Linked DNA regions of Homo sapiens. The protein of the gene in region 4 interacts with the protein of the main gene of each other region in a pairwise test. Each region holds a gene or a part of one and is shown on either strand. Other genes may lie near its edges.

Region 1 (7,051 bases), on a different chromosome or scaffold from region 4:
GCTGGAAAATATGATTACATCATAAATGGCCTAAAATATGACCTAAAGCCAAACTGTAGTAATAATAATCTTTCTTCCTGAAATGATGGTTCCCTTATGACTGAAAAAAATAATTAAAAGAATAAAATGGCTATGTTTTTCTTCCATTACTATTTTGAAACTGCACCAAGATTAATTCATTAATTTCACCTTTTTCAATCATTTCAGGCTAAAAATGACTACATCTATACCTTATTTGGCTAACATGTGTACACAGCTAATTATAGGAAGGCTACTTTTAAGTAGGTATCTTTTTCTTTTTTTTTGTCTTTCTTTAGAAAAATAACTTCATGTAGTTTTGGAAGCCAAAAGTTAAATATTAGAAAACTAACAGTTCAGCATCAGGAATAGAAACCAGCACACATATATGGAAGGTTTGTAAGAAAGAATTACCATGGGTAAGTCAAGACTTAGTTATAACAGAAAACACAACTTACAGCAATACCTCATCACCATTTACTCTCCATTTCTTCAGGCCACTGGTTCACATTCACCACACAAAAACATCAACTGACAGACACTGAGGAAAGTGATGTGTGATGGCAGACAGTATGTGGGTCTAGGATCTTACACTATTTCAATGGTTTTTATTTAAAGTCTTCTATAGAAAAAATTACTTGTCAAATGTGCTATAAATGGTTGAGTAAGCAGAGCTTTTGAAATAGATTTAGCAAATTCAACTGCATCTCATAATGGATTATCATTAACAAGGCATGAGTTCATATGATTAGTTAATTAAGCAGAAAAAGTATAATGTCTTTGGTTGAATAAAATCAGTATTTTTTATTTATCAAACTCCAATTCCATTTCACAAATGTAAGTTATCATCAGCTCCCCATCCACTTTCTCCCATCTTCTTATCTCTTTCCCACCCTACACTTTCTCTCCCCTACAACCCGGGTTCCAAAAAGAAAAAAAAAAAATCCCTCAGCTATTTGATCTTAATATCACTGCAAAAATCAAAACCAGTGTCTCCTGCCCCCAGGACAGTGGGTATCCCCACCTGGCTGCCTCCTGTAGCTCATGCAAAATTCAACCCATAATTATAGATGCATTCTCAGTTTACGCTGCACTTGAGATTCAATGGTGACTAATGTCAAGATGGAGAGATTTGTGAATAAAAATAATTTCAACAGCAAATAGAAATTAGTTTTGTCTTATTTGTCATTGACATGGGTAATGTACAGATGGTCCCTAATTTATGATGGTTCAACTTTCAATTTTTTGACTTTACAATGGTGCAAAAGTGATATGAATTCAGTAGAAACCATACTTTGAGTACTCATACAACCATTCTGTTTTTCACTTTCAGTACAGTATTCAATAAATTACATGAGATATTCAATACTTTATTTTAAAGTAGGCTTTGTGTTAGATGATTTTGTCTAACTATAGGCTAATGTAAATGTTCTGAGCATGTTTAAGGTAGTGTAGCGTGAGCTACAACGTGCGGTAGGTTACAAGTATTAAGTGTATTTTCAATTTATGATATTGCCAACTTAAGATACGTTTATCCGGATGTAATTCCATTATAAGTTGAGGAGCATCTGTATATAACTACATACTACAAGATGACAGGTTTTCCTGATACACCCTCATGTAACAAATTATGGGTCAAGGGGGAAAACCCCCAGCAAAGAATATACTGATAACTTACAGGACCCCCCCACCCTCCACCACCAAAAAAGTGCCTTACCAGAATCTAAATGGCAAACTCAGGAAATGTTTAAGTTTCAGACTTAAAGTAGACTTTAGTCAACTCCAGAGTGGGCTACATTGTTCCCAAACTGTGCCAGTCAGGAATCCTAGAAGGGGTTCCAGACCATTATGGAGCATGTGGATAAGAGTAAGAGGGAAGTACACTTAGAAATGAAGTGTGCAAAGTGGCCAAATCCCTCTAGACCCAAAACAAAGTAATACAGTTCTGTACCTGTTTCTTTTGGTGAACTTGGAATTGGATCTGAAATTTCAAAAGATCTGAGAGGGCACGGGTGAGTTTTTCTCAATTCTACATCTTCTCAACATTAATAAAATTAATCTTCACTGGACTATTACCCCCATCTTATCTCATCCTGTTCTCTGTATCTGGAAGGTTGCTCTTCTCTGCCTTCCCCTGGTTAATTCTCACTCAATAATCGCTCCTTCTGGGAAGCCTTGGTGTGGGTGAGACACATCTTCTTGAGCTTCCATGGCACTGGGCTGAGGTCTGTCATAAAATCTGCCCCCGTGTTCTGCAAGTGTCTGTCACTGATCTGCCTCCCTCTCTGGACTGTGACATCCTCAGGGGCAGTGGAAGTGTCTAATTCATCTGTATCTCCCCAGCACCAAACATTCAGCCTGGACATAATAGACAGTTATTGAATGTACTAACAGATATGAGTAACACAACTATTATCCCTTTACTATCAAAAGCAGTCATTTTTCACGCAATCATGGCACTCATAATTAATGCCACACAAAAACTGGAAAACTTTAATATTTCTTAAGCAAAATAATGACGACAGAATCAAGGCAAAAGGATGAAGACGGAGTTTCGCTCTTGTTGCCCAGGCCGGAGTGCTGTGGCGTGATCTTGGCTCACTGCAACCTCTGCCTTCTCGTTTCGAGTGAGTGTCCTGCCTCAGCCTCCCGAGTAGCTGGGACTACAGGCGCCTGCCAGCACGCCCAGCTAATTTTTGTATTTTTAGTAGAGATGGGGGTTTCACCATGTTGGCCAGGCTGGTTTTGAACTCCTGACCTCATGATCCGCCCACCTTGGCCTCCCAAAGTGCTGGGATTACAGGCGTGAGCCACCACACCCAGCCCAAAACGTCTTTTAATAAAGGCAAAGGTTTACTTACACATATTCAAACAGAGGAAAATGCTGATGTATGTATCTTCACTGGAATGATAACTTACCCCTATAAGCCCATCCAGCTGCAAAAGCAGCTTAAATGATATAGTCCTTTTAATTTGCTAACCTAAACTAAGTCGGGTTCTTGTCCACACTGATTTGTTGGACAAAATTAAACCAACCCTGTATTAGTTTGTACTTTTCTTTGTACTTTTTCATGCTGATTCCTCTTGTCATAGTTGCTTGGATAATCTAAACATTTAGCAACAAAAGTCTAAAGTCTGGTGATTTATTCCTTTCTATGTGATGCTACTGCTCCTTCAGCAGCATCAGCTTCAGGAAAATGATGTACATTATTAAATTACTTGATAATGACAAAGTGAACTAGGATGACATTACACACACACTTTTTTTTTTTTTTTTTTTTTTTTAGACAGAGTCTTGCTCTGTTGCTAGGCTGGAGTGCAGTGGTGCTATCTCATCTCACTGCAACCTCCACCTCCTGGGTTCAAGTGATTCTCCTGCCTCAGCCTCCTGAGTAGCTGGGACTACAGACACCACACACACATTTTAAAATGGGATTTGTTGCTTGAGATTATGCCTGCTTGTCCATTCAGATGAAAAGCCCCTGCTTATGAAATGAGCCTGAGATGTCTGACAGATTTAATATCTAATATCAGTTTAGGGGAAGTGATGGAAGCTAACTTCAAAGGTCAGGGGAATATTTTGATGGAAGTTCAGAGGATTCAGTTATGTAAGTAAATATTTATGGACAACCTGAAATAAATACTGCACTATGTTCTGTATAAGATATAAATGAAACTTTTTTCTCTCTTATTAAGGTTTTAGTCATTTTCTCTTTAATTATGGTACTCCCTTGATAAGCAGGAAGGAACACTACACATATCCAGATCTCCAGTCAAAAAATGAGGCTTTCTGAAATGGTTACAGATTTTAGTAGCAAAAGCCCATAAAATTAATAACTAGCACTCATTTTTAAAACATGCACCTCCAAATTTATATTGAGAATCATAAGATGCCACAAACAATTTACTTATGACACAAAGGCAGTGGAAGGTAAATCTGTTTGTTGAAAAGTTGTAAGTAGATTTTTCTGTTTTTGTGGTTTATATTAATGGATGGATACCTACCATTATTATAATAAAAACTAATTTTGAAGAAATCTGAGCTTAATAAGAATTCAAATACATGCAAAGGCAATTTTCCAGCATATCTGAATTACAAGGGATCTAGCCCTGCCTTCTTAGTCTTATAATGGTTCTCTAATGAGTCTAAGAATCTCTGCAGAAAGCTCATTTTCAGCTAATAGTATCTAATAGAAGTCACTCCCTAGTCATTTTGTTCCTTATTTTCAAGGCTTTCAAGATCAGCTGCACAGGAAGAGACTACATTATTGGATGCATCCCAGTCTCTGGGACACATCAATTTCCAAACGTTACTGCCAAGGCCATGTAGAAGAGTCAAAACAATAAAAAAAAAATCCTGAAAAGGAGCAGTTGTTCTAACTAGTTGGCGGTGATGATTTATCAAGAACTGTTAATCTGCTGCCATGTGAAGAGCCTCCAGCACATTCACTTTCCATCTTGGTGTCAGAATAATTTCTAATTATGGTTTGGGGCAGCTTTCTCACTTGAAACTAAACAGAAGTTTGAGGAAATTTATGCATTTAAAAATGCAATCATCCACTATGCTGGTAAATAAGATACAATTACGCACAAACTGTGCCTAGGCCATTTAGGGGGTTATATAAATGACTGAATTGTTATTTTTAAACTAAAGTGAAAACAACATATTCTCATTTACGAGAGAAGGGAAGTAAAATAATTCACTTAGTGTTCGAGTTAGATTGCATATCACTAATGTGTAAAATGGGATTTAAGTAGTTATTCTACATAGATTTAATGTTATGTTAGGATTAACCGCAACTGGCAACAAGCACTTCATGCAAAAAATGACCTTCAGATTTTCATAAAAACCTCATTTCTGCAACTTATTACTGTGTATGACTTTGGACAAGTCACTTAACCTCAGTTACCTGAGCCTCAGTTTCCTTATCTTTTGAATAGGGTTAATAATACCACCTTTTAGGATTCACACACATTCAAAAACTTGGCATTTGTTAGCTATAGCTATTAGACATTATCTTGATGTTCACTTGCCTCCAGGATGAACATATTTAGGCTTTTTCCTAACCAGAGAATAAACCCAGAACCAAAATATATAGGTCCTACTAAGTACCCTAATAAAAGGGGAACATCTATCCAAATTATATTCCCCATCCCTTCCATTTATGTCCCCATTCCCCCATTTGATGCCTAATTCCACTTTTGGGATTTATTACCTGGTGCTAAGCATTGACTTCTTCCTGAAGAGGCCCCTACAAATGCAAAAGCTCAAGGAAACAATAATTAAAGCTATTATCACTTTGTAAGAATGCATTTGTGTGGTTTTCTCCAAGACAAAATTACCCCACATACTAACACTTGGTACCTGGGAAAGGATAAAATAGCTGTTAAAAAGGAGCAATCCTAGTCAACAGGGTACATGACAAATAAATTTAAAAAAAAAGTAAAGGGGCAAAAGGGCCTTTTGCAAAACAGGATATATTTTGCAATTTTGCTTAAGTTAAGTTTTGTCAGTTAATCATTCATTAGGTACTAAGAACCTTTGGACAGAAACTCAAGAAATTGGCATTAGTAGTTGCCTCTAAGGAGGAGAACTGGTTAGGCAGGTGCAAGAGTGGGCGTAGAAGGGCAACACCCACTTTCACTGCATATCCTTTTGTACCTTTTGATTTTGGCACTGTAGGCATTAATTATCTACACAAAAGTTTTAATTTAAAAAATTCAATCCTCACACCCTGTTATTTCTCCTACATCATCTTTTAGATTATTTGTTTACATTATTTGACATTTAAACATTGACTTTTGGCCAGGCACAGTGGCTCGTGCCTGTAATCCCAGCCCTTTGGGAGGCTGAAGCAGGAGGATTGTTGAGCCCAGAAGTTCAAGGCTGCAGTGAGCTATGATCATGCCACTGCACTTCAGCCTAGGTGACAGAGTGAGACCCTGTCTCTAAAAACAAACAAACAGAGAAGTTGCATTTTTTCCCTAAAAAGTAAGTTGGAGTCATGTAAAATTTGATAGGCCTCTAACGGCTTATTTTTCTTTAAAGTATTAAACATAAAAAATACTCAAAATCTAAAGATACAACATTATTAGACAATTAACATTATTTACTGACTTTCTGTAAATACAGTTTCCTTCACTAAAACTTAGGCTTCCTGCACACAGGGCCTGTGTTTTATTAATCTTTGAGGCCCCATTCAGGCAAACACTGGGCTTTCACAGGAATACTTTCTTGAATTCCAAGGAAGAAAAGTCATTAAATGAAACACGATGTTTTGATTAAGAAGGAATTTCTCAAGATTTTTATAAAAACAAACAAAACAACAATAACAATAGAAAGAGGCAGGGACAGGGAAAGGGAGAAGAAGAAACAGCTATAAACCACCTACGTTCATAATAGAACTTTTGGGACCTTACTGATTGGGAATGCTTGTGAAACACCAAATATGTCATAAGGAGGGAGAATTAAGGTTAATCTAAAATAATGAGAACACTTGTTCAACAAAATATTTGCTACATGCCTATTGTATACAAGGCCTTGGTGACAAAATGTTGACCAATACAGACATGATCCTAGCCCTGACAGGTTACATAATAGTGGGAGATACAGAACGGTAAACAGGCAATTATCACGTGGTATGATATATATAAAAGGAAGTTTATAGCGTTTTAGGAGCTCATAAAAGGAGAACCAATTCCATGCTTGGAAAAGTGATGTCTAAGTGGGACTAGAGCTTTGGAGTTCTCTAAACCCGAGTTCAAATCCTGGTTTTACAGGTTACACTCTATAACCCTGGCCAATTTATTTAATCTCTCCAGGCCTCAGTTTCACCAACTTTAAAATAGGAATTATGATAGTATTGAGTTCAAAGAGTTGATGTGAGTATTAATGAAATGCACATCATAAATCTGGTATGGTGTATGGCAAGTGGCAAGTACCCAATAAATATTAGCTAATAATAGTGATAACAGTAAGCTGAGAACTTAAGACAGATAAAAGGGAAGAGAGGAAAGAGGAAGAGTACCCGGA
Region 2 (7,158 bases), on a different chromosome or scaffold from region 4:
TCAACAGCACCCATTAACCAATTTATGCAGATGCCGTCTGGATAATGGGGTTCCAAGCTGGGAAGTCAGACACCTGAACTGTTTCAACCCAGGATATATTTTTATGGAGTTGAATTATTGATGTGCCTCATAGGCAATGAAGAAAGAAATGACACCATTTTCATGATCACGTTTGGATTCTAAGCAATCCCAAAAACTTCCCCGGCATGGTCCCCAGCTTCCCTTCTCCTACCTCTGGCTCTGAGGGCAAGAAGATAGATGAGAGTTACTGAGGGATGCCAGGTCTGTCTCCAGAGCCCCGGAGGCTGCCTACAGCTGGAGGGCTGAATCATCATGGCTGCCCACGCTGGGGGGGAACCATCCTCAGCAGGTCCCTGCTGGGAGGCAGGCAGAGTCCAGCCCCACAGGAAGAACAGGGGGTCCCGCACCTTCACCTAGCCTTTCCTATGGTGAGTGGTACGTGGAAAGAGCTGGTCTCTAAGAAATCCTGGGCCCCAGAAGAGCAGATGTGGTCCCCAGCATCTGCACACTTGGGCAAAACTGAGTAGGTCACTGGAGCAAGTACCCACTATGTCACTGTCCTTAGAAGGCCCAGGCTGGAGTGCGGTGGCGCAATCATAGCCAGGACCACACCCACAGATGGCTGTGCCACACAGTCCACTATGCAAAATGAGTGGACCCCCTGGCAGGAATCCACGTACTCCCCTATAGAAAGCAGCATAGGAAGTCCGTGGTGAAATGCAAGCAAACATCTTGTTTTTAAGAATCTCCTTGACAAATAATATCTGGTGGAAACCTTGGCCTTAAGACCTTCCTCCAGCAAGGTTCTCGGGGAAGAGAAGGGAAGAACATCAGAATCCCAAACTCGGAGTGAGGAGGGATGGAAGGGTCAACTGAATCACACACTCAGGTACCTACGGGGGCCTAGGAGATAGACTGTGCATCCATAGATGTGAATTGAGCCACCCACAGGAGTGGAGAGCTCTGGGCCCACCCTAGACACTGTATGTCTGAGAAAACATGTCCCACTGAATGGAGTCCAAACCTCAGCCCAGCTCAGCTGCTGGAGGCCACCGGCAGCCAACAGCCAGCAGTCTGTTGTGGGTGGTGGTGGGTGTGGACACTGGAGGTTTACAAGGTCACCCAGGCACCCCCCAGCCCAGCAGCCCACTGTCTTGAGCTATAAAGGACACCACGTGCAGGAGGACAGTGAACTCTTGGCTTCAGGAGGCCTGTTCTGGGCACTTCTTGCCATGCCGGGAGAACTGTCTCCCTGGTCCAATGGGAAGAACATCAGTGATGCACAACACCACTAGAGAAAACTCATGAAATGCACACACCCGCACGCACAGCTCCCAGGTCAGTGGCCAGAGGGAAGCTCCAGGGTGCTCCATAGGAGCAAGTGTTTCGAGTGCCACGGTTTGACAACCCCAGAGTGCTTAAAGCCATAAAGAGCAATGGCAGATGGCATTCCCAAGCCTATCTCCTACCTACCTCACTCCCGGTCCCCACCCACCATGGGATCCAAGATCACGGCAGGGTCCCCAGCGGCTTTGTCTCTCAGTACCCACTCCCTCCTGGAAGCTGACCTCCAGGAGGACCCTGGTGAAGTTCCTGGGTGGAGGCACTGGGAGACCTGGATCCCCCTGACTGGCTCTGCCTCTAACTCACTGGGTGACCTTGATAAGGTCGCTGCCCTCAGTAGGCCTGTTTCCTATGGTGCCAGATGAGGGAGTCATCTTAGATGCACAGGAAGAGGATGGAACACCCTATGGCTTGCCGGGCAGAAAATCAAGGCCTGTCACTCCTGCCTTTCACCTGTAGAACTCCACCTGTCTGAACGCCAAAGTCAAGATGACTTTGCCAGTCCATCCCAGCTAACCCCAGCAATAACGTCACCACGTTCAGGGTGGGTGGGCCTGGAGCCTGTACCAGACCTGGCACTGATAAAACGGGCGTCTTTCCCTACAGCTTAGGCTGTTTCTTTAAAATATGGTAGCACAGCTGGCAGAAGAGACAAATACACCTTTAAGACCTGCCAGCGGACAGTATTTTACACTAAGATGTCAAAGGCAACAACACCTCAGGACAGGAGGATGCATGCGTCCAAGTGCTAGAACAAGCATGCCACAGGCGTCCACCCAACTCAAATGACCAGTCGCTTATTTGAGCTCCTGTGCTGGCTAGAAATTACAGCTTAAGAGGAATAAAAAATTCCATTCAGACGTGCCGCTCCAGACACGAGGCCTATGAGCAAAGTTTCCGGTGGCCTCGCCGCCCCTCCCCGTTCCGGGAAGCCGGGCGGGTCACCTCGTCCTCAGATTAACGAGCAGCTCAAACAACTGGGAGAGCCCGGCGACAGCTTCTCCGGGGCACCCGACACCCTCCGCCAGGAACCCCAAATATGGGAGGCCTGGCCTCCAGCCAGCACCCCCGCCTGCTGCTCGATCACCTCCCCAGCATCTCCATGATCACACCTCCTCCCACGGCGCTCGGACCCTCCCGAACAGGCCCTGCGGAAGGGCCCACCGGCCACCTCCCCGCACAGCCCGGGGGCCTATCTGACATCCAGGGCCCGTTTCAAGGACACTGCAGCAGGCAGCCCGGTCTCGGGGGTCTTCCGCCCGATTGCCCCCCTCCCAAAAACGCACACACACAGAGACACTGACAATGCCGGTAGAATCGAAGGCGAAGGCTTTCCTTGCGCCCTGCAGTCCAACTCGATGCTGGCCCGGAGAAGGCCGGGCGCCGGAGGATGGAGGCAGCGGAGGCGGCGAGCGGATGCCGGAACGCAAGGCTGCGGCCAGGACCAGCGGCGGCGCGGGCGGGGGCTCACCTTTTTGACCTGGTCATCCTTCAGCTCCGTGAAGTAATAGGCCAGGAGCTGCGCGGCGATCATGCTGGCGGTCGGGGTCGCGGGGCGGCAGGCGTGGGGACGGTCGGTCCTCCGCAGCCCTGGCGAGCCGTGGTCCTCCGGCGGCTGCTCGGCGGCTCCTCCTCCTCCTCCTCCCCCGGCTCCTCCCCCTCGGCCCGGGGCGCGGCGACAGCTCGCGCGCTCCCGGTCTCCGCGCTCCCGTCCCCTGGAGGGTGACAGCCGCCAGCCGACCCACCTCCTCCACGCCCATTGGTTGCGGCGCGCCTCTGCAACGCCCGGCGGTGGCGTCCCGGCCGGGGAGCGGGGACGCGGCGGCCGCTCCCTCCTGCGCCGGAAAGGGGGCGGGCGACGCAGCGAAATCCCCCCCGACCCCGCATCATCCTGCACGTCCCCCACGTAGGGAGCCGATGCGGGCCTTCACGCGTGGCGGCGCCGTGCCCGGGTGGGCCGTGCCAGGCGGGGAGGTGCGAGGCGCAGGCAGGAGGCACCGCCCGGCTCCGCCGGGACGAGAAGCCCCTAGGGCTAGTCTAGGGACTGGCAGCCCCGGGGGCACGAAGGCGGTCCCATTCCTCGGAAATGAGGGCTCGCCCCTAGGAGTCCGGTGGACGCCGAGGTGCCGGAGGGGACTTGCAGAAGTGGGCGTGGAAAGCGGGCGGAAGCGGGAGCCGGGGACGCTACGCAGTCCTCGCACCCGGGTCCCGCGCCTTCCTCACCCAGGCCGAACGCACCGGCCTACCTGGGTCTTCAGCGGCAGTGCATCACCTCTCCCCGGCGTGCCCCGCCTAATCTCCAGCTGGCAGATTTGTATTGCTGAACCCAAAGCGACACCCCAGAGCACCCGCCCCCGAGTCACCAGCTCCGGTGGCTCTCCCTCAGGGCGCACTCCCTCTGGGCGGGACTTGGGCCACAGGTCGTGGCCTGTCCCCATCCTCTGGGCCTCCTCTTGCTCTTGGGCATCCAGGCCCACTGGGACTTGGGGCACGGTTCAGCGCCCCTTCCCAGGTGCCGTGTTTTCTACTTTCCCAGAGGAAGTTACGTAGGATGGGAGGACTCCCTAGAGGTGCTACCAGGACAGCCACTTTAGGATTCTTAGATTAATTATTTCTGTGTTCCGGAAGCCTCCAGGAGCTTTAGTGCCTTACAAAATGACATGTAATGAGCTCAAATATACAAACAAGTTGTTGCTATTCTGGTTAGACAGGTAAGGAAATTGAAGCTCAGTGAGGCCTCAGTCTTGCTGGACTTTATACAGCCAGGAAGTTGTAGATCTAGGATCACAGCTTGGATCTGTGAGTCTTTGAAGCAGGTGCTCACCTCTAGGGTTTGCTGTGGTCCCAGTTGTATAGAGCCCCTCTGCCTAAATAGGTCACTTTCCTGCAACCAAGTCTGCACCATATGGTGCCCTGAGATCCAACCCCCAACCTCTACCCTAGCTCTTGACTTTAGGAGTCCCTAGCCCTTGACCAGGCCTAGCAAAGGTACAGTCAAATCAGAGGGAGGGATGACGTAGGTTCAGGGGCCTGACAGCCACCATCACCCACAGAAAAGGAGGAGCTTAGATGCAGTCCTGAGGCCCCAGCTTCCTGTCCAGGTCACAGTCCCCACCCCCTGCCTTAGGGCCTATGCAGAGGGGCATCTTGAATCACCTCTGAGACTGTGTCTTCATCCATAAGATGAAGACACTAATGCCCACCTCACCTCCCCTTGATTGTTGTGTAATACTGTACGCAAAATACGTGCACATAATACACACTTAAGGAATGGCAGGTATCATAGAACTGACTGAAAAGTTAATGCGGTTAAAGCTTCAGGGACTCTCACTTTCATTCCTACCCTTCTAGGCCCTGGGAGGGCCTAGCAGTGTGATATTTGTATATTTATATTTGAATTATTTTCCATAGAGAGTGCCAATTTATTTAATTTTCAAGCCCAACAAAACCTGGATTTGCCCTGGATCATAATTATAAACCAGGAAGAGAGAGATTTTCTGGTACACATCAAACATTTGGAACTACCTACATGGCCGTTAAGCAAAATGGAGTGAATGAGAACAAGATGGTTGTTCTCAACTGCCATTTCATTTGAGTTCTGCAGATCTGCCAAGCTCACAGGGCTGGAAACTCCTTGAGGATGGAGGACTATGTTTTGCTAATTGCTCTGTCTCCTACACAAGCGCAGGGCCTGGCACTTGGCAGGCTGAATAAGCCTAATGCATAATCAAAAACATGGCCCTTAACCCAGCCACCAGCCGGTGCCATCACCCATGCCCAACCCGTTGTTACAACTCCTATCTGAGCTGGAGCCAGGGAGAAGCTGACGCTTGGAAGAGCCAGGTTACCCTGAAATGTCCTGTTTGCAGGCAGGAAAGCTGCCTCTGCTTTGTCTTCCCTGGCCTTTGAGAGGGAAACTGCTTCTCAAGGTGACTCATTCCTCCCCACTCCATGAATGCAACCAGGCCCCAAGGCCTGTCAATATTTCCTGAGAAATGTCTCTAGGCCTGACCTATTGCCACCTCCCAACTCCCAGTCCATCTCCCTGTGCCAGAAATATTACAAGAGTCTTCTAACTGTCCTCCTCGGCTCCTGGCCTCATGCCATCCAAGTCATTCTGAGCACCAGGTCACATTAATCCTGCTAAAATGCAGCATAATCATGTCATGACCCTTCCCTAAATCCCTTCATGGCCCTCTCCTTCCTGAGAGAGCCAATTTAAACATCTCTGCCTGGTTTCCGAGGCCTTCTGTAATCGACTCCACTCTTTCCCACTTATCTCTTCCTCCACTCTGGCCGCAACAAGGCCACTTCCCACCATCCTCTGCCCCCACCATGTCCACTCCATTTGTTCGCCGCTCATATTCCCTTCCTTGCCCTGCCTTCTCCACTCACCTCTGCCTGACCAAGCATCCCCTCTCATCTAAGGCCCAGCTTGCCAACCTTCCCTGGACCACAGCTACTCACCCCAATCTCCCAGGCCTCAGCACCTCGACAGGGCAAACTCAGGCTGTGCTCACAGTCCATCTGGATATACACCCAGACTCCTCTTTACAGGGCAGGAACCTGGGATGCCACAGGTGGGCCATCTTGCCCAGTGTCAGGTTGTGGTAGAGTTTTGAGCCAGGACTCCAGCCTAGTCCTGATGCCCAGCCAGTGCTCTGTCCATCCCACCCCCAACCCCTCATGCAACCTGGGCCTCAGATAAGTAACACTGAGTCATGACTGCCTAACTGATATGGGTGACTGTCTTCTAGGGGGCTGGTCCTATCTGCCCCAATCAGACAGCTTCCTGAGGCCAGGGCCCATGCTGCACTGCTGTGTCCCCTCTCTGTTGTTCCAGTGCTGACTTCACTAATTTCCTTAATAATTTGCCTCTTTTTGCTCTTGCATAGCTCTTAGATCCCTGCTAAGGCTCCTTGACAGTTACTCCCTGGATCCTCAGGAAGACCCCAACCCACAGGGAGTCCTTAGTTCCCTCCCTCTCCAGATGGCCCTCCACTTCCCTTCAAGTCCCCTGAACTCTCTCTACTCATTTACTGTGGTACCTCCTACACAAGTTGGGGTTGGAGTGACCAGTGCCAGGCTGCCACCCCAGGAAACGCACCTGCTTATAAGACAATAAAGGCTGCCTTCTAAGTTGGAATGTCTGTACCAATTCCCATCTGACCCATGGCACTAGGAATGTTACTTCAGGAGTGATCTCCAACAGATAACAGCTGTACCTCCCGCACCTGGGAGCACACTCTGAATAGCAATGTTTACATAACGTTGACAGTTTGCAGAGCAATTTCTCATTTATTGCTTCATTTCTCCTGATAACAGCCTGGTGAGGTTAGAAGGGCAAATATCATTATCTGCACTTAATCAGTCAATGAGGATGTGAAGGTTATAGAGCTTGGGTGTTTTGGTTTTTTTCTTAAATTGAAATGAGGTCTTGCCATGTTGCCCAGGCTGGTCTCGAACTCCTGGACTCAAGGGATCCTCTTGCCTTGACCTCTAAAACTGCTGGAATTGGCCAGGCGCAGTGGCTCACGCCTGTAATCCCAGCACTTTGGGAGGCTGAGGTGGGAGGATCACGTGGTCAGGAGTTCGAGACCAGCCTGGCCAACATAGTGAAACCCTGTCTCTACTAAAAATACAAAAATTAGCTGGGCATAGTGGCAAGAGCCTGTAGTCCCAGCTACTTGGGAGGCTTAGGCAAGAGAATCGCTTGAACCTGGGAGGTGGAGGTTGTGGTGAGCCAAGATTGTGCCACTGCACTCCAGCCTGGGCGACAGAGTGAGACAGTCT
Region 3 (2,775 bases), on a different chromosome or scaffold from region 4:
TCAGCAAGTAAGGCTGGTCTTCATGTCCACCCGCCTATGCCACTCTCCCTTCTTGGGAGCATGATGGCCTCCTGCATTGCCCTCTTGCCCTCCATCCACCCCCCCCATCCTCAATTCAGGAGGCCTGAGGGGGGGCAGCCACTAAGCGTGGGGGTGGCATCATGGTATGGGCTGCCAGCTCCTGCCCACCCCACCCTGACAGGTACCTGACCTTCCTCCTGGTGGTGACCATCCTCATTGTCGTGAATGCTGTGGTTGTGCTCAATGTCTCCTTGCGGTCTCCACACACACACTCCATGGCCCGAGGGGTCCGCAAGGCAAGGACCCTCCCTGCCCACTTCAACATCCCGCTGCCCACTCCCCTACGCCTCCCTCTCGCACGCCCCGGCAGTACTCACCTGTGGCATTCCACAGCACACCCATCCTGGGCGTATCTGGACGCATGGACCAAAATCGATTACAGTAATACAGGAATGAAATTGCTTCCTAGGTGCCCGGGATATTACAAATGTTAATGTATTTCATCTTCATAAAACCCATATCACCTCCAATTACAGATGAGGACGTTGAGGCGCAGAGAGGTTAAGTAACCTGCCCAAGGAAGTGCACTACAAAGTCGAAAAAGCAGGAGTCTGCCAGGGCAGTCTGATTCCAGTCTGTGTGATCTGTAGCCCACCTGCAGCCTTCAGCTTGGGCCCTTGTTGCACATGCAGATTCCCAGGCCTGTCCCAGGCATTCTAGGCCAGAATAGCATGAGGGCTGGGGGCAGGAATCTGTGTTTATAACAAGTGCCCTGGTGATTCTGATGTGCACTGAAGTTTGGGGACCCAGGCTCGTGTCCAGTATAGAAAGCTTTACCAAGGCCACGTCACTGCCCCGGTATGCTGCCTCCATGGTCCCTAGCAGCACAAGCCCTTCACGCCAACCTCTGGCTTCTGCTCTGAAGCTCGGCCTGCTGCCCTAGTGAAGCCACCCCCTCTCTAGGTGTTCCTGAGGCTCTTGCCCCAGCTGCTGAGGATGCACGTTCGCCCGCTGGCCCCGGCAGCTGTGCAGGACACCCAGTCCCGGCTACAGAATGGCTCCTCGGGATGGTCGATCACAACTGGGGAGGAGGTGGCCCTCTGCCTGCCTCGCAGTGAACTCCTCTTCCAGCAGTGGCAGCGGCAAGGGCTGGTGGCGGCAGCGCTGGAGAAGCTAGGTGAGACACACCAGGTGTGCCTGGGGACAGTCCTCCCCTGGGACCCCAGCTGGGGAGCCAGGCACAGCAGATGAGTGCTGGAGAAGTGCCCAGGTCAGGGAGAGAGGAGCTGGGGTCCCTAAGGAGAGGCCATCTTCTCTGCCTGTTTCTCCTCCATTCTACTCCCAAACCTTACCCTTTCTCTTTATCAGAGAAAGGCCCGGAGTTAGGGCTGAGCCAGTTCTGTGGCAGCCTGAAGCAGGCTGCCCCAGCCATCCAGGCCTGTGTGGAAGCCTGCAACCTCATTGCCTGTGCCCGGCACCAGCAGAGTCACTTTGACAATGTAAGCTGAGTCAGGGTGGGGTGGAGGTGGAGTGAGTACCTGGGCTTGGAACCGTGATAGAGACAGGATGAGTGGGGTTGCCAAGATAGGGCAGTGGGATGGAAAAACATGAGGCCGGGTGCAGTGGGTCACACCTGTAATCCCAGTACTTTGGGAGGCCGAGGCGAGTGGATCACCTGAGGTCAGGAGTTTGAGACCAGCCTGGCCAACATGGCAAAACCCTATCTCTACCAAAAATACCAAAAATACCAAAAATTAGCTGGGTGTGGTGGCGGGCACCTGTATTCCCAGCTACTCAGGAGGCTGAGGCAGGAGAATTGCTTGAACCTGGGAGGCGGAGGTTGCAGTGAGCCAAGCCAAGATCGCACCACTGCACTCTGGCCTGGGTGAAAGAGTGAGACGTGAGACTCCGTCTCAAAAAAAAAAAAAAGGAAAGAAAGAAAGAAAAAGGAACAGGGGCAGGGGGGGCACCTCAGGGCCAGGGGGCCATGGAATTAGCCACCAGTTGGGACCCGGACATAGGTAAGAAGGGCCCCAGGAAATGGAGACATGGGCCTGCTGGAAGCCCAAGGATGAGAACAGGACCCAGGGAAGACCTGGTGCCGCCGCTGGTTATCCCACACCTGCCTCCCACCCTCAGGGGAATGAGGAGTGGTTCCTGGTGGGCCGAGTGCTGGACCGCGTCTGCTTCCTGGCCATGCTCTCGCTCTTCATCTGTGGCACAGCTGGCATCTTCCTCATGGCCCACTACAACCGGGTGCCGGCCCTGCCATTCCCTGGAGATCCACGCCCCTACCTGCCCTCACCAGACTGAGCCAACCAACCACTGTGGGGCATGTGGGAGTCACACACGTGGGTCACACTGAGTCTTATCAGCCACGTTCTCCTACTGAGGTCCTAAGTGTGCTCTTTGGGAAGTGCCCTTCAGGACTGTGTGAGCCAAACAGCCCTGAGAAAAGCTGGGGAAACAGTCTGAGCTGGAGTCCGAGAGTGGTTGGGGGTGGGCCGTGGCTAGTGTCCTGCTGCAGTCAGCACACACGTGGGATTGGCTAGCTCATCCTGGCACCAGCCACCCCTCCACTCAGTGCACTCCCCTCACTTAGGCAAAGCATTATTCATTCCCATCAGTCTGAAGCCCGAAGGACTGTTTTGTATAATACCTTCGGACTTGGGACTGGCTCCCCTTTTACAAGTTCTCCCTGAAAGAGGGCAGTCACAAGAGGTGTGAAGAGTAGCAGCCGATGCTCTCTCCAAA
Region 4 (7,051 bases):
AAATAAAATCTGAGTATTCTTACCTCTTGTTCTAGACAAAACCATATCCTTTATTATTTGCATAATAACACGCCCAAGTATCATGACGGAAATCAGGTGATATACTCTCCATGGAGTCAATGCAAGGAACCTGCAACAGCGAAACACAAATCAGTATTTCAATTTGAGGATTTTTAACCTTTTCAAAATTGGGTTTACTTCCTGCCACAGAAACAAAAAAGGTATTCAATAATGATTTCACTTTTTTTTTTTTTTTTTGAGACAGAGTCTCGCTCTGTTGCCCAGGCTGGAGTGCAGTGGCACTACCTCGGCTCACTGCAACCTCTGCCTCCCTGGTTCAAGTGATTCTCCTGCCTCAGCTTCGCAAGTAGCTGGGATTATAGGCATGAGCCACCACGCCAAGCTCATTTTTGTATTTTTAGTAGAGACAGGGTTTCGCCATGTTGGCCAGGCTCATCACGAACTCCTGTCCTCAAGCGATCCACCCACCTCGGCCTCCCAAAGTGCTAGGATTACAGGCGTGAGCCACTGTGCCTGGCATGATTTCACTTTCCAAAATCACCCCAGTGTGACTGCATGAAAGTTATTTAATAGGCATCAAAGTCAGCAAAATGAAAGTGTCTGAGCCTGCGCGCTTTTGTGCTAAGCTTTCTGCTCTACCCTCCAATTTCGGGCAGAGGATTTGCTATCTCAGGCATAGACCAAAATATTGCTCCTAGTGCTGGGCTTCTCCAATAGCCGATGGAGAATGGAAGTGACCTGAAACAGAGTTAGGATGGGCTGCAGAGCCAAGCTGCAGGGCTCTCTAACAGACACGGATGGGCTGCACTACAGAGGCCCTTTAGTCACCACCCTGTCTTGTGTTTTCATTTACGCCCTATTCACTTCTCTAACTACTCCCACCCTCGTCTCTTAAAAACAGCAGTTATTGGCCGGGCGTGGTGGCTCACACCTGTAATCCCAGCATTTTGGGAGGCCGAGGCAGGCGGATCACAAGGTCAAGAGATTGAGACCATCCTGGCCAACATGGTGAAACCCCGTCTCTACTAAAAATACAAAAGTTAGCCAGGCATGGTGGCGTGCGCCTGCAGTCCCAGCTACTCCGAGTCTGAAGCAGGAGAATCACTTGAACCTGGGAGGCGGAGGTTGCAGTGAGCCAAGATCGCACCACTGCACTCCAGCCTGGTGAGAGAGTGAGATTCTGTCTCAAAAAAAAAAAAAAAAAAAAAAAAAAAAAGCAGTTATTGAAGATCCACTTTGCTAACTCTTTCGCTTTAAGATCATGCTCCCCTTTTGCTACCTGTCTACCTCCTCTCTGCAGGGAAACAAACTAAAAATTATTGACCGTGAGCAGCACACAAACCCTGCAGTGCTTTTTTTGGGTGTGTTTGTAAAGAAATCACAAAGAGCGTTGAGCCTTCACATGAGATTAGAGGTCTGTTTACACAAGTTAATTGGCCAAGCTGCCAATGAATATTAACTTTGATAGAATCAGAACTCATAGAAAAATTAATTTAATAAATGTTTAAGACTGTTTGCAAGGCTATAAAGAGAAGTAAAGAACACACGAATACTGCCTTCTGCAAACTTGCTTTCTCATCAGACAAACACAGGCCAAGCTCACAAAGTCCAAGGCAGGCAAGGCTTAGGTGTTGTCACAGAAATGTGCAGAGAACAAGGAGAGGCACAGGGAGAGGGAGGATGGATTCGCTCCAAAGCAGGGAATGGTTTTTTTTTTTTAATTGGTTTTTTGGGTTTGTTTGTTTTTTGTTTTTTTTTTTTTTTTTTTGAGATGGAGTTTCACTCTTGCCACCCAGGCTGGAGTGCAGTGGCACGATCTTGGCTCACTGCAACCTTCTCCTCTCAGGTTCAAGCAATTCTCCTGCCTCAGCCGCCCAAGTAGCTGGAAATATAGGTGTCTGCCACCACGCCCAGCTAATTTATTTGTATTTTTAGTACAGACAGGGTTTCACCGTGTTGGCCAGGCTGGTCTCAAACTCCTGACTTCAGGTGATCCGCCGGCCTTGGCCTCCCAAAGTGCTGGGATTACAGGCACAAGCCACAACGCCCGGCTGGGAAGTTTTTATAGAAGCGGCACTTAACTGGGTCTGGGGAGGTGGATGCAACTCAGATGAAAATAGAGGCTCCTCCAATTAGAGAATACAACATGAACCAAAGATCAGACTCAGGAAAGGGTGAGGTACCTGTGGCACATCAAGTAATCTGGGGTGCCTCAGCAGGAAGAGAAAGCAAAAGAAGAGGGTTCAGAGACTGGCAGAGAGACAAGATTGGGGAGATAGGATCAGGGAAGACTGTGTCAAGCAGAATGCGCAGTAAGTCTTATGCTACAAACAATAGAGAGAAAGTCAAAGGTATAGAGCAGGGAAGTGAAATGATGGGTGATTTAGGGAAATGTCTGAGGGCAACAGGAAGGATGTGACGGGGTAGGGAGGAAGCATGGAGTCCAGACCACCTACTAGAAGGTCATGCAGTATGTTTGGTGAAAAGCAGATCAACATGAGATGCTGGGTGACGTGGTGGGTAGAGCCCTCCACCAGAAGGTGGCCAACCCAAGCTCTCACTGGTTCAAATGCTGTTTGTATGGCCTGGGCCAGCAAAATGAGCAGGTGGACTAGGTCAGTGTTTCTTAAATAACAGTCTGCAACTGCTGCCAGGTTGGCTGCCTGGAAAACTTGTTAAAATGTAGATTCCCAGGCCCCAGGCTCCTCCTCCCAGGCCCCCTGAAACAGGTGGTTTGATTACTAGTATTTGCATCTAATAAATATTTATTGATTGCCTAATTGCACCAAGCACTGTGCTACCAAAAGGGAGTGGTGAATTAGGAGCATAGAAAGATGGAACAGACATAAAAGACACAAGTTACAGAATAAAATGCCGCAGTCCATGTCTTTAGCAACAATCATTTGTTCCTCCACTAAATTTGTCCCTCCCCTAAGGAGCCACCACTTGCTCTATTTTTGTAGCTCTTGTTTGTTTTAAGCAAGGTTGCATTCTGGTGTTTGCTTGGTTTGGGGCCAGCCTCCTCACTCTCAATTCAGGATTCATTCTTGCTCTTGTTCATGTGCTGGGTGCTCCCAGTTTTCCCGACCTCACGTTGAAGTGGCAGATTTCATAGTGACCCACAATAAGAAACTCATTTATATTTACATACATATAAATGAAAAACAAGTTTTGAAAAATATTTTCCTTACAATTCATAATGCAGTTCAACTTTTTCCATTCAATTCTATTACGCGTTTAAATGCTGACTGTGAATCACTCGCCTGACTCAGGGCCCACTAATGAGCTGTAATGCGCAGCTCGGCTCACATGGCATGAGACAGAACCTGCAAATGTTCGAACAGCATGCTTCCTTAGAATGGCTTTCTTTGCAGGGTCAGGCAAAGCCCTAGCACAGACAGAAAGCTCCCTCAAGTTTAAAAGTCTTTGGAGCTGGCCAGGAAGCCATTTAAGCATCTTTTCAAAACCAATGAAATGCAAAACCAACCAAAGCACAAAGGCCATTAGTTATTCTCTTAGTGGAAGTTACAAACTTCCAAGAATAATAAAAAAGAAAATTAGGTAATGCCAGGACTGCAACCCACAGGCCTGGCTGCCAGACTTCATTTGGAAGGCATTGCCACAGCAACTCCAAAGAGCACTCGGGATGTCTGTCTATTCTGTCCTGGGCAAGGGCCCAGTTGGCATATTGGCCAAGGTCTTGTTGGTCATCGAGAATCCTCGGTCCACTGAGAAGACAAGCCCAGCAATTGCTTAGCAAGGTAATGCCAAACTGTATGGGACTACATATTTGATTCTTTGGTGGGTTAGTGTCATATAAACATGTTTGAGAAACGAAACCCTAAGAGAATAATCTGTATTTAGAAAAATCTGAGCACTTTTGGTACTTTAATTATTTATAATGTTTAAGATGATTTGTCTCAGGGCTCCACTTCAAAATATGTAGCTGAGTAATTTAGACTTGTGATTGGAAATTTAAAATCTTACAAACATGAGTTTATTCTTTAGTTTATTCATTTTTCAAGTAGTACCTAATATTTGGGAGGGTTTGTGTTATTAGATGAAGGAATTTTTAAAAAGTTTTTGTTTTGGTAAACTTCAAACGTACACAAAAAGAGAGGCCAGAGTGTAATAAACCCGGTTTCAACAATTCTCCATTCATGGGTAATCTTGTTTCTTCCATATTCCCACCCACTAAGCTCATCCTTCCCCCGAAATTATTTGAAGCAAATCCCAAACATCATGTAATTTAATCTGCAAATACTGCCATTTATCTTCAAAAACAAGATTTTTTCTTTTTCTTTTTTTTTTTTTTTTTGAGATGGAGTCTTGCTCTGTCGCCAGGCTGGAGGGCAGTGGCGCAATCTTGGCTCAGTGCAACCTCCACCTCCTGGGTTCAAGCAATTCTCCTGCCTCAGCCTCCTGAGTAGCTGAGACTACAGGTGCACGCCACCATGCCCAGCTAGTTTTTGTATCTTTATTTTTTATTTATTTATTTTTTTATTTTTTGAGACGGAGTTTCGCTCTTGTTGCCCAGGCTGGAGTGCAATGGCACGATCTCGGCTCACCGCAACCTCCGCCTCCCAGGTTCAAGCAATTCCCCTGCCTCAGCCTCCCGAGTAGCTGGGATTACAGGCATGTACCAACACGCCCGGCTAATTTTGTATTTTTAGTAGAGACGGGGTCTCTCCATGTTGAGGCTGGTCTCGAACTCCTGACCTCAGGTGATCCACCTGCCTCGGCCTCCCGAAGTGCTAGGATTACAGGCACGAGCCACCGCGCCCGGCCAATGTTTGTATCTTTAGTAGAGATGGGGTTTCACCATGTTGGCCAGGATGGTCTCGATCTCTTAACCTTGTGATCCCCCCGCCTCCACCTCCCAAAGTCCTGGGATTATAGGCAGGAGCCACCGCGCCTGGCCAAAAACAAGATATTTTTAACCAAATAACAATACCACCATCACATCTAAAAAATTACTTTAATTCTTAATGTCATCGAATATCCCATCAAGGTTCATATTTCCCCACTCATTTTTGTGTGCACGCACACACACACACACACACACAGACTGAAACAGGATCTGAGAAAGTCATCTGCTGAAATTGGCAGATGTGGATTTTAAGTGTCCTGGACCCTTATAGGTCCCTTGCTGTCAGGTTCATTTCTCCAATAAAGTTTTCCAGCTTCTGGGAATCGTTTGTTGTATCCTTGTGATTTGGTTTAACATTTTCCTTGATCTTTTGTGTAGCCTATAAGTTGGCACGTGGATCTAGAGGCTTGATAAGACTTAGGTTTGTTTTTTTTTTTTTTCCCTCTAAAACCCAAAGATAGGTGGTAGTGCCTGTTTCCATCAAGAGACACGCAGACTGTCTGGATGTCTTGGTGGCTACACTTGCACTATTGGCAGCCACAGACAATCCCTGTCTAGTGGCTGATTCCTCAGAGGCTACAAGGGGTGACGGCCCTTCACTCCTGCTTCGAGTAATAGCTGGATCACAGTTATAACGAGAAACTTCCCCTCATCAATGTCCAATTACACTGAGAGGTGGAGCTCGTCGGAAAGGCAGCATCAGTTCTTGAGTTCTTCCCTTTATTTTACCGGTTTTTTCAAGATAGTGAAGCAGTTCCCTAGTGTCCTCTAAAGGTAACTGATATGGTTTGGCTGTGTCCCCACCCAGATCTCATCTTGAATTGTAGCTCTCCTAATTCTCATGTGTTGTGGGAGGGACCCAATGGGAGACAATTGAATCACAGGGGCGGTTTCTCCCATACTGTTCTCGTGGGAGTGAGTAAGTCTCACGAGATCTGATGGTTTTGTCAGGGGAAACCCCTTTTGCTTAGCTCTCATTCTCTCTTGCCTGCCACGATGTAAGACGTGTCTTTCACCTTCCACCATGATTGTGAGGCCTCCTCAGCCACGTGGAACTGTGAGTCCATGAAGCCTCTTTTTCTTTATAAATTACCGAGTGTCGAGTATGTCTTTATCAGCAGCGTGAAAACAGACTCATACGTTTTCTTATTCCTTTTTTTCCTGTTATTATGAACTCAAGAGTTTGAACATATTTGACGTGTTTCAGTCACTGCAGAGTTATCCTTACTGATGCTCCAGCTACCCCGTCTTATTCAGGTCGCCTCTCAGGTCTTTGGCACAACCTTAGTTATTCTGATAATAAAGTACTTCAAAGGGATATAGAAAATATAACATTTACAAATGCAGTTTAAAATGTTCAAAGGAATATAACTCAACTTTCTAACAAAACTAATCACTTAATAAAGCAATCATTTATTATTTAATGAAACAGTCAGACTCTCTTGAACACGGTTACAATTTGCTAGATTTATAAACAAAATAATGTTTTGTTAGCTAAAATGGAAAGCTCAAAGAAAAATGAGTTTTAAGTTTGTAATTTTATAAAATCAAAATTTTTCTTTAAAAAGTAATTGAACAAAATTGTTTCTAACCGATCTTTACATGGAAACTGGCCTGTAAGGACATCAAAAAACAATCCCCATCTGCTGGGCGTGGGCGATCCTGACACTGGCACGCTGTGGCATCACTCAGAGAAGGACTGTCACAGAATCACAGAGCTGGAAGGAGCTCAGAGGTCATCTGATTTACTTTCATCTGATCCACAAATCCCCTCAGCTGCAATCAACCACCTCTACTTAAATAGATCTCATGCCAGGAAGCTCAACATTTCTTGCAGCATTCAATTTCCGGCAGCATCCTATTATTACTGGGGGAGGCAGGGAATTCTGTTTTCATTCCATTCACAGCATCTGTCACACACTGGGCTAGCTGCTGGGAAAACACTGGTGACTAAATCCCAGCCTTCCCCCTGCAAAGCCAGGAAAGCAGACAGGTAAACAACTGTGTTTAACCAAAGTGCTATTCAGGATGCTGTGGGGGCAGAAAACAGAGCCAGTAACTACATAAAGCAGCCAGAGAAAGCTCTAGAGAAGGTGGCATCTAAACTTTGACTTCGAAAGACATCTGATTTGGCCAGGTAGAAAAGAGACCAATGCATTC

What was found.
Region 1: the proteins of RETREG1 (region 4) and DDAH1 interact in a two-hybrid assay, tested with the Homo sapiens proteins (one study listed by IntAct).
Region 2: the proteins of RETREG1 (region 4) and HK1 interact in a two-hybrid assay, tested with the Homo sapiens proteins (one study listed by IntAct).
Region 3: the proteins of RETREG1 (region 4) and TIGD1 interact in a two-hybrid assay, tested with the Homo sapiens proteins (one study listed by IntAct).

What each region holds. Positions count from the first base shown.
Region 1 is NC_000001.11:85,455,146-85,462,196, forward strand, and holds part of DDAH1 (N(G),N(G)-dimethylarginine dimethylaminohydrolase 1), read right to left. Parts: intron 1-7,051. UniProt on the Homo sapiens protein: Hydrolyzes N(G),N(G)-dimethyl-L-arginine (ADMA) and N(G)-monomethyl-L-arginine (MMA) which act as inhibitors of NOS. Has therefore a role in the regulation of nitric oxide generation.
Region 2 is NC_000010.11:69,314,689-69,321,846, reverse strand, and holds the start of HK1 (hexokinase-1), read right to left. Parts: upstream 3,001-7,158; 5' UTR 2,900-3,000; coding exon 2,837-2,899; intron 2,784-2,836; exon of another isoform or gene 2,670-2,783; intron 1-2,669. UniProt on the Homo sapiens protein: Catalyzes the phosphorylation of various hexoses, such as D-glucose, D-glucosamine, D-fructose, D-mannose and 2-deoxy-D-glucose, to hexose 6-phosphate (D-glucose 6-phosphate, D-glucosamine 6-phosphate, D-fructose 6-phosphate, D-mannose 6-phosphate and 2-deoxy-D-glucose 6-phosphate, respectively).
Region 3 is NC_000002.12:232,543,383-232,546,157, forward strand, and holds the end of TIGD1 (tigger transposable element-derived protein 1), read right to left. Parts: 3' UTR 2,335-2,775; coding exon of another isoform or gene 2,161-2,334; 3' UTR 1,521-2,160; coding exon of another isoform or gene 1,390-1,520; 3' UTR 1,199-1,389; coding exon of another isoform or gene 985-1,198; 3' UTR 501-984; downstream 1-500. Other genes in the region: CHRNG (acetylcholine receptor subunit gamma precursor), read left to right, coding at 1-7, 203-317, 985-1,198, 1,390-1,520, 2,161-2,334.
Region 4 is NC_000005.10:16,571,973-16,579,023, forward strand, and holds part of RETREG1 (reticulophagy regulator 1), read right to left. Parts: intron 131-7,051; coding exon 24-130; intron 1-23. UniProt on the Homo sapiens protein: Endoplasmic reticulum (ER)-anchored autophagy regulator which mediates ER delivery into lysosomes through sequestration into autophagosomes.